2 linked regions of the Homo sapiens genome follow. The protein of the gene in region 2 interacts with the protein of the main gene of each other region in a biochemical or structural test. Each region holds a gene or a part of one and is shown on either strand. Other genes may lie near its edges.

Region 1 (4,517 bases), on a different chromosome or scaffold from region 2:
CCGGAGGCTGGGCTTGTGGGGCTGCACGGCCCTGCCCAGGAGAACTCAGCACTGCCTGGACGGCGAGACTCAGCTTCTGAGCTGAGGGCTCTATCAGGCCTGGAAGTGGACCCTGGGGAGGGGTGGGGCAGGGTAGTTCTGATAAGTCCTAGGACTGTTCGCTTCCGGGTTCTGAGCCCTGGCGTCAGGGAGGAAGGGCATGTCCAGAACAATGGCCAGAACCAGGCCCGGCCAGCTCGGGGGGTGACGGGGGCGGGTGGCTGGGGCAGCGCTGCCGTGTGCAGGGGCCGAGCCCTGCGGGGCCGTGAGCCGGCCCTGCCTTCTGCTTCCTTCCCAGATGTAGCCGCCTGTCCCGGGAGCCTGGACTGTGCCCTGAAGAGGCGGGCAAGGTGTCCTCCTGGTGCACATGCCTGTGGGCCCTGCCTTCAGCCCTTCCAGGAGGACCAGCAAGGGCTCTGTGTGCCCAGGATGCGCCGGCCTCCAGGTACGAGAGCAAAGGGGGAAGTCGATGGGGGGATGTCCCTGCATGAACCTCTCCCTGTAAGAAGCGGCCGGCTGGGCGCGGTGGCTCATGCCTGTAATCCCAGCACTGTGGGAGGCCCAGGCTGTTGGATCTCATGAGGTCAGGAGTTCAAGACCAGCCTGGCCAACATGGTGAAACCCCGTCTCTACTAAAAATACAAAGTAGCCGGGTGTGGTGGCACACACCTGTAGTCCCAGCTACTCAGGAGGCTGAGGCAGGAGAATTGCTTTAACCCGGGAGGCGGAGCTTGCAGTGAGCCGATTCACCACTGCACTCCAGCCTGGGCGACAGTGCGAGACTCTGTCTCAAAAAAAAAAAAAAAAAAAAAGAAGGCCGGGAGCAGTGGCTCACGCCTGTAATCCCAGCACTTTGGGAGGCCGAGGCGGGCACATCATAAGGTCAGGAGATCGAGACCATCCTGGCTAACACGGTGAAACCCCATCTGTACTAAAAATACAAAAACAAAATTAGCCGGGCGTGGCGGCGGGCGCCTGTAGTCCCAGCTACTCGGGAAGCTAAGGCAGGAGAATGGCGTGAACCCGGGAGGCAGAGCTTGCAGTGAGCCGAGATCGCGCCACTGCACTCCAGCCTGGGCGGCAGAGCGAGACTCCGCCTCAAAAAAAAAAAAGCAGCAGCCTGCAGCCTCAATGCCCAGGCCTGTGCCAGGTGGTCTTGGGGCCCCTGGACCTTGTGGGGTGTTGGGTCCAAGGCCTGGGAGATCCTCATTCACTCTCCACGAAGCCTCCCATCCTTTCCAAATGGAGGTGGGCCCAGGCCTGGGGCAGTCAGGCCCTCCCAGGAGAAGGGCTGCACGATGTGAAATGCTGGGATGGCCACGGGAGAGGAAGGGCCCATTCTCCCCGGGCCTGGGCTCTGCAGGGTCTGCCCAGAAGCCCTCCAGGCCCCCACTTCCCCGTCCCCAGGCAGCTTGCTCTTTTCCACCACTCACTGTCCTGTCCGCCTGTTGGCAAATGTTGAAGGGTGCCAGCACTGGCTGGGTGCTGGGGATGCCCCGCTCGCCAGCCTGAGCCGCATCTGTCGGGATGGCCAGTCACTGAGTGACTTCAGGTGTGGTGAGGGCTTTGCTCAGAGGTGCTGGGGGTGGGAGCAGCAGCGGCTTCCTGGAGGAGGTGTTGAGAGGAGCACCGAGAAGTGGCTGTAAGGGTCTGTGTGGATGCACCTCCTGCCAACCTGGGAGCGTCCACCCAGACTGTGCAGCCCACAGTGGGTACCGGTGGAGCCCTGCCACCAGCCCCACCCCTGACAGCTGCCCCCGTTCTCCCAATGACCTGGGGAGGGGTCCCGGGTGCTTGGCTTCCTTCGGCTTCCCCCCACTCCTTGGGGAGTCCCTGCCCCTCTACCCGAGAAGGTGCTTGGAGGTGGGGAAGCAGAAGGGGCTGTGCTGGCCAGCCCTTTATGGACATGGGTTGGGGCGAGAGACCCCACTCCTTCCTCCCCGTGCCCGGTCTTTGGACGTTTCCCTAGCGCCTCCTCCCTTGCCCTGCCTCCACTTTCCGGGAAGCACTGCCCCTCACAGGAAGCGCCCGCGCTGTCACCATGGCAATCTGGGAGGGAGAGGGCCTCCAGGCGTGTACCCAGTCCTCAGGCTCCTGGGAGGAACCTGCCAGAAGCGGGGAGGCCGGGCCTGGGGCTACCTCCTGGACGGACCCCTCCACCTGATGGCCCCTCACCCTCCCCAGGCGGGGGCCGGCCCCAGCCCAGACTGGAAGATGAGATTGACTTCCTGGCCCAGGAGCTTGCCCGGAAGGAGTCTGGACACTCAACTCCGCCCCTACCCAAGGACCGACAGCGGCTCCCGGAGCCTGGTGAGACCCCCGCTTCCCCTGCCCCACGGCCCTGTCCCTAGCCCAGTGCTCTCATTCTAACCTGTCCTCTCTCGCAGCCACCCTGGGCTTCTCGGCACGGGGGCAGGGGCTGGAGCTGGGCCTCCCCTCCACTCCAGGAACCCCCACGCCCACGCCCCACACCTCCCTGGGCTCCCCTGTGTCATCCGACCCGGTGCACATGTCGCCCCTGGAGCCCCGGGGAGGGCAAGGCGACGGCCTCGCCCTTGGTAGGTCTTGGTCGGGGGTGGGCAGGGGCAGCAGGGCGCCCTGCAGAAGGCCGCCCTCACACGCCCCCTCCTGCAGTGCTGATCCTGGCGTTCTGTGTGGCCGGTGCAGCCGCCCTCTCCGTAGCCTCCCTCTGCTGGTGCAGGTGAGCCAGTGGCCGCGGGCAGGGCAGGGAGGGTGCCACACGCTCAGAGGTCTCAGGCCCCACTCCCCACAGGCTGCAGCGTGAGATCCGCCTGACTCAGAAGGCCGACTACGCCACTGCGAAGGCCCCTGGCTCACCTGCAGCTCCCCGGATCTCGGTGTGTGGCCCCCTTCAGCCCTGAGGCTCCCGCCCAACTCTGGCCGCCAACTGACCCTCGCCTCCTCCTTCCCACAGCCTGGGGACCAGCGGCTGGCACAGAGCGCGGAGATGTACCACTACCAGCACCAACGGCAACAGATGCTGTGCCTGGAGCGGTGAGTGGCCGCCCCGGCACTGCCACCCCCACCCACCCACCCCCCATCCCCACCTCCACCTCCATTTCCACCTCCCCTGGCCAACTTTACCCCAGGCCCTGCCACCCTCACCTGCACGCTAACCTTCACCTCCCCCGCCGCCCTGCACCCTCACCTCCCCTGGCCAACTTCACCCTGGGCTGTGCTCCCCTGCCACCCCAGGGCTGAGGTGGGCTGAGTGCCCACTTCCAGACTGGGCCACTGGCACCTCGAGGGCATGGGGAGGACCCAGCGATCCCCCCCCACCCAGGCATAAAGAGCCACCCAAGGAGCTGGACACGGCCTCCTCGGATGAGGAGAATGAGGACGGAGACTTCACGGTGTACGAGTGCCCGGGCCTGGCCCCGGTGAGTGCCTCAGGGTGCAGGGAGGGGCGAACCATCTCCTGGGGTTCCCTCCCAGCAAGTATCCCCCCAGCCCACCCACTGCCCAGCCTGACACCCACATTCGCAGACCGGGGAAATGGAGGTGCGCAACCCTCTGTTCGACCACGCCGCACTGTCCGCGCCCCTGCCGGCCCCCAGCTCACCGCCTGCACTGCCATGACCTGGAGGCAGACAGACGCCCACCTGCTCCCCGACCTCGAGGCCCCCGGGGAGGGGCAGGGCCTGGAGCTTCCCACTAAAAACATGTTTTGATGCTGTGTGCTTTTGGCTGGGCCTCGGGCTCCAGGCCCTGGGACCCCTTGCCAGGGAGACCCCCGAACCTTTGTGCCAGGACACCTCCTGGTCCCCTGCACCTCTCCTGTTCGGTTTAGACCCCCAAACTGGAGGGGGCATGGAGAACCGTAGAGCGCAGGAACGGGTGGGTAATTCTAGAGACAAAAGCCAATTAAAGTCCATTTCAGACCTGCGGCTTCTGCCTGTGTTGCCAGCTTGGGTTAATCTTCCACCGCCTCATCTCCCATTTGGGGCCCTGGTAGACGGACCCCTGAGTGGGGGGCCTGGGGTCTGCTCTTGCACCCCCAGAGGGAGGAGGCCTTTCTGTTCGCTCATTAGGAGGACCTTCCCATCCCGTGGAGCTGGAGGAGAGGCCACGGGATCATCCCCACCCTCCTCAGCCAGGCCTCACCCCTGCAGACCCTTCTACGCAGGTGGGAGAGGGGAAGGGTGTAGTGTAGGGCTGGGCCAGCCCAGGGTTGGCTCTGCGGCCCGGAAGACCCCATCCTGTGTGATAAAGAGGGCTGGAGCAGGTGATAGTCCACACGCACCTGGATGTGGGTGCCCACCACCTCCAGGCAGAAGGAAAACAATGCAGACATTGAGTCTGGGTTTCTCATGGGGACCACGGCCGCCAGGCCCTGCAGCACACGGAGGAGGGATGGCAGGCAGAGGTACCTGTGTGATACCAGCTATGCAGAGCCAGGTGGACCCAGGGGGCCAGGTGAGGGGTGTGATGGGAGGGGCCTGGACGCCTGGAGCTGG
Region 2 (3,802 bases):
GGCCAGCTGACTTAAATGGACTGGCTACGTAGTATCAGAAAAAGGCAAACAGTTTCCCCAGATGAGATGACGGACTGACTTGCCTGCGGTCTCGAAAAGCCAAGAGACTCAGCAGCAACTCCCAGGAGGGAAATTTCCACCACTGTCCATGTGAGATCAGTAACGGGGGACAAAGGGAGGTGGGAAAAGGCTGGAGCCGGTAGGGTGGTCAGCCCATCAGAGCAGGTCTATCAACATCGGGGGAAAAGGTTACAATGCCTGGGGGCAGGAGGAGGGGGGTGGCCGCTTCCAACTCCTGTCACTGACATTTTTGTCTCCAGGCATTGAGGAAGGGCTTGTCTTAAACTGGCTGAGAGTCCTATTTGTAAGGCAGCCTTAATTGGAGACATTCAGAAAAGGAGGAAAGCGTACCATTTCTATAAACGTTAAGTCCCGTCCACGATTTTCCTCTGGAGGATTAGAAAAGCATTCTTCATGCTGCACTGGAGGGAGGTTTTCAGTCTGTGTTCTGGAGTCCTCGTTTAAAAAGCGTATGTTTGGAGCCCGCATTTTAAAACCATATCTACGAACTATCTCAGAGGAGGACCCCGGATTTGCTCCGTCAGCATCTCCCTGCGCCATTTCTCTGAGCTGGGAACAAATGCCAGGGAAAATCCAGGTGGGCGGGCGAGGAGGCCGGCGAGCTGCAGCCGTGGGCTCTCTGAGGTTTAACCTGTCCCGTATCCCTCGTGCAGGCCTCAGCCATAGGCCTATAAACCACATGATCCCTTAACTCAATAAAAGCCCGCAGAGGGCATCTGAATCCCCCCGGACCATCCAGAGGGTGTCATCGTGAAGTGCCCAGCATTCTTCAGCCTCTCCATGGTGATGCATGAGGGCTCAGGGCCAACACCCCTCTCTCAGGTTGACTTTAAACCCCAGGGTTTTTTTTCAAACCAAAAGATCCCAGGAGCGGCAACAAGGGTGGAGTGGGAAGTTTCCAGGGGGCAGTCGGAGCCTGGGGGTTCTAGCCCCAGCTCAGCCACTGCCCACCCCGCTCCTGGCTGGTTACTTCAGTCCCTGTCCTGCCCGTGGAAAACGAAGGAATGGCCTCTCTGACCTCTTGGCACCATCCTGTCTCGGACGGGCTAGGACTGCAGCTTCCTGCTGATTGAATTCAGAGGCTCACTTGACCCTGGTCTCTCTCAAAACCTTTCTTCTCAGGAGCTCCAAATTCTGGCAACAGGAAGTTAACAGCCTCTGGGCCGTCCACAGGGCACACAGAATGGGGAAGCTCCGTAGCTAATAATAGTTTCTTGAGTTTGTATGGCACTTTGTCTTTTGAAAGCACTTTGTAATCCATTACTGCATTGAACAAAAGGGAAGAGAGAGCGGGGAGGGGTCGAGAGGTTTGCCAGGGACGGACACCGTTCTCACAGTGGGGCACCTCTTGTGTGTCTGCTCCATCCACTGCAGCTGAGTCCTGGCTCTCCTTTCTCCTCTGTGCGCCTTACAGCCTCAGCGTGTGAAAGCAGACACGGCAGCTCTTCGCTGCCGGGCAGAGGCAGCCTGGCAGCGTGTACAAATATGGCAATGAAGCAACAATTCAGACCCACTGAGAAGCCCACGCCATAAAGGAACATCGGTAAACAGCCCTCCCACCCCCACCCCCTTCATCTGCTTGCTGAGTTTTCTTCCGTATTTTCCCGTGCACAGCTTTTCAGAACCTTAAGAGGGGGTGTCACCTGCTGAACTTTGCACTCCCTTGGATGTCGATCTTAGGAAACAAACCAGAAAAATACCTCTGACACAACATAATCAAATCCGTCGTCTCCTTCCCTGAGCTGAGAAGAGACATCTGGACTTAGCCAAGAAGGTGGTGGCCACCTACCACGTCTGTGTTGGTGATCTTAGCCAGCAGCTCAGTCAGGGCATCACAAGTGAGCGAGCTCACTTCCTCATCCTGCTGGAGCCCACAGATGGCTGCTCCCACACTTCCAGTTGCGATCATCGACGGTGGGTACATGGCAAACTTAAAGTCTGCAAGGAATGAGAGGCAGAAGGTCAGGGCACAGAACGAATTTGGATCCTGGAGCTCCCGAGACTGCAGAGACTCAGAAACAGGACGGCAGCAGGTCAGCGGCGCGAGTGACCCCGTGCCCTACAGGCATGTCCTCCCTCGAGTTCTTTCACAAGGAGCCTGTGTTTATTTGCCATCACCATGGCTGTTCCAGATTAAACGAAGGAGACTGAGGCAGGGAAGGAAGACAGCTTATCTAAGCGCACACAATGAATGCACAGAGGATTCAAGGTCCCCAATCCCCAGATCCCAGTCATATTAAGCATGTCTGAGTTAACATTCTTGACCCTGGTGGGGGGAGCAAGGTGAGCGAGTCATAGTCTCCTCTAGAGGTGATGGTGGGAACAGAGCAGAGAATGCCTGAGACCAGTGCAGACAAGGTACCCCATGGGCCATGCAAGCAGGACAGACCAGGGGCTCCAGATGTGAGAAGGAGGGAAAGTACAAGGAGATGGGAGAAACGGGCAAAATCTATGCATAATGCTAATTCAGATGGGATCTTGTTATAGTCTCTGGACAGGCATTGAGGATTAATATGACCCCCACCCAAAAAAAAAAAAAAAAGGTTTGATCTAAAAAAGGAAATGAGAGAAGCAGCAATGCAGGGAGTGGGCGAGTGGGGGCTGAGTTCCACCCAGTTCCCAACCTCTGGCCCAACAGCAAGAACCCTCAGAACATTAGGGCAGAGGATTCTAACCCTAACATAGGGCTCTAACTAAGCACTGAAGATTAATCATTGCATCCGAATCAGATGGGTGACTCGGTTTCGATGTTATGACTCATGAGACTGAAGGCCCCATTTTATTGCTAAGAGAAAAAAATGTGACTTGCTACAGGGAAGTGCAGAATGAGGATAATAAATCAGAGGGGCTTGAACCCCGTCCACTGCCATGCTAGAGGGCTCCTCTTGGAAGACCAGCCCCCTTGTGTTCCTCCGAGCACTCCTTCAGAGGGGCTGGGTGGCCATGATCCAGCAGCTGCTTGGTCCATCGAGGGGAAATAAAGACAGCCAACTTCTCCTGTTACAGCTGCTGACAGCTACCAATGACCACCACATGCAGTACGCTACACATTACGTCCTGTTTAATTTACCCATCAGCCACAGAAGATGCACACGAGCGTCACCCTAATGGTATGGGTGAGAACCCTGAGACTTTTGAGAGTTTAAGTTGCCCCTGCTCGTGTTGACAGATATTAGGGTGGGTATAGTTGCAGCCATCACGCTAGTGACGGTCCTGGAGTGCAGCAAGTCTTCCAAAGCGTACTCTTTCTCGTTTTAGCATTGCTCTAGTGAGCTTACTGTGTGTAGACATGGAAGGGGCACGTGGGGGCAGGAGACACAGCATACAGGGAACCGTGGGTCACCCTTCAACTTACAGCAAAAACAATCAGGTTAAATCTACAAAAACCAGCCCCTCTCCTATTTCCCCTTCCTCCTGTACACACTCTATTACAAACACACTTTCTACAGCAGCTCTTTTAATGGTCAGCCCATTGCCCCAGCATCAAGTTAGCAGCATTGTTAGACACCGTGGATCCCTGAGCCAAGCACAGCCCTCCCCTCCCATCATGAACGCAGAGCAAACCTGGCCATCTGCCTGTCTCCTTGGCTTTTTCTCCATTGCCCTCTCACCATCTCCACCTCTTGAGGGACGTATATAATGGTGCTGCGCCCACGCCTGCTGTCCACCCGCCCCTCCTACGCCTTCTCTGTCGCCATGAACAGTGTGACAAAGCCAGCCT

What was found.
Region 1: the proteins of CCND2 (region 2) and NPDC1 form a complex in vitro, tested with the Homo sapiens proteins (one study listed by BioGRID).

Annotation. Positions count from the first base shown.
Region 1 is NC_000009.12:137,038,894-137,043,410, reverse strand, and holds the end of NPDC1 (neural proliferation differentiation and control protein 1 precursor), read left to right. Parts: intron 1-337; coding exon 338-484; intron 485-2,223; coding exon 2,224-2,349; intron 2,350-2,426; coding exon 2,427-2,597; intron 2,598-2,673; coding exon 2,674-2,740; intron 2,741-2,812; coding exon 2,813-2,897; intron 2,898-2,974; coding exon 2,975-3,054; intron 3,055-3,343; coding exon 3,344-3,440; intron 3,441-3,546; coding exon 3,547-3,639; 3' UTR 3,640-3,948; downstream 3,949-4,517. UniProt on the Homo sapiens protein: Suppresses oncogenic transformation in neural and non-neural cells and down-regulates neural cell proliferation. Might be involved in transcriptional regulation.
Region 2 is NC_000012.12:4,287,059-4,290,860, reverse strand, and holds part of CCND2 (G1/S-specific cyclin-D2), read right to left. Parts: intron 2,020-3,802; coding exon 1,871-2,019; intron 1-1,870. UniProt on the Homo sapiens protein: Regulatory component of the cyclin D2-CDK4 (DC) complex that phosphorylates and inhibits members of the retinoblastoma (RB) protein family including RB1 and regulates the cell-cycle during G(1)/S transition.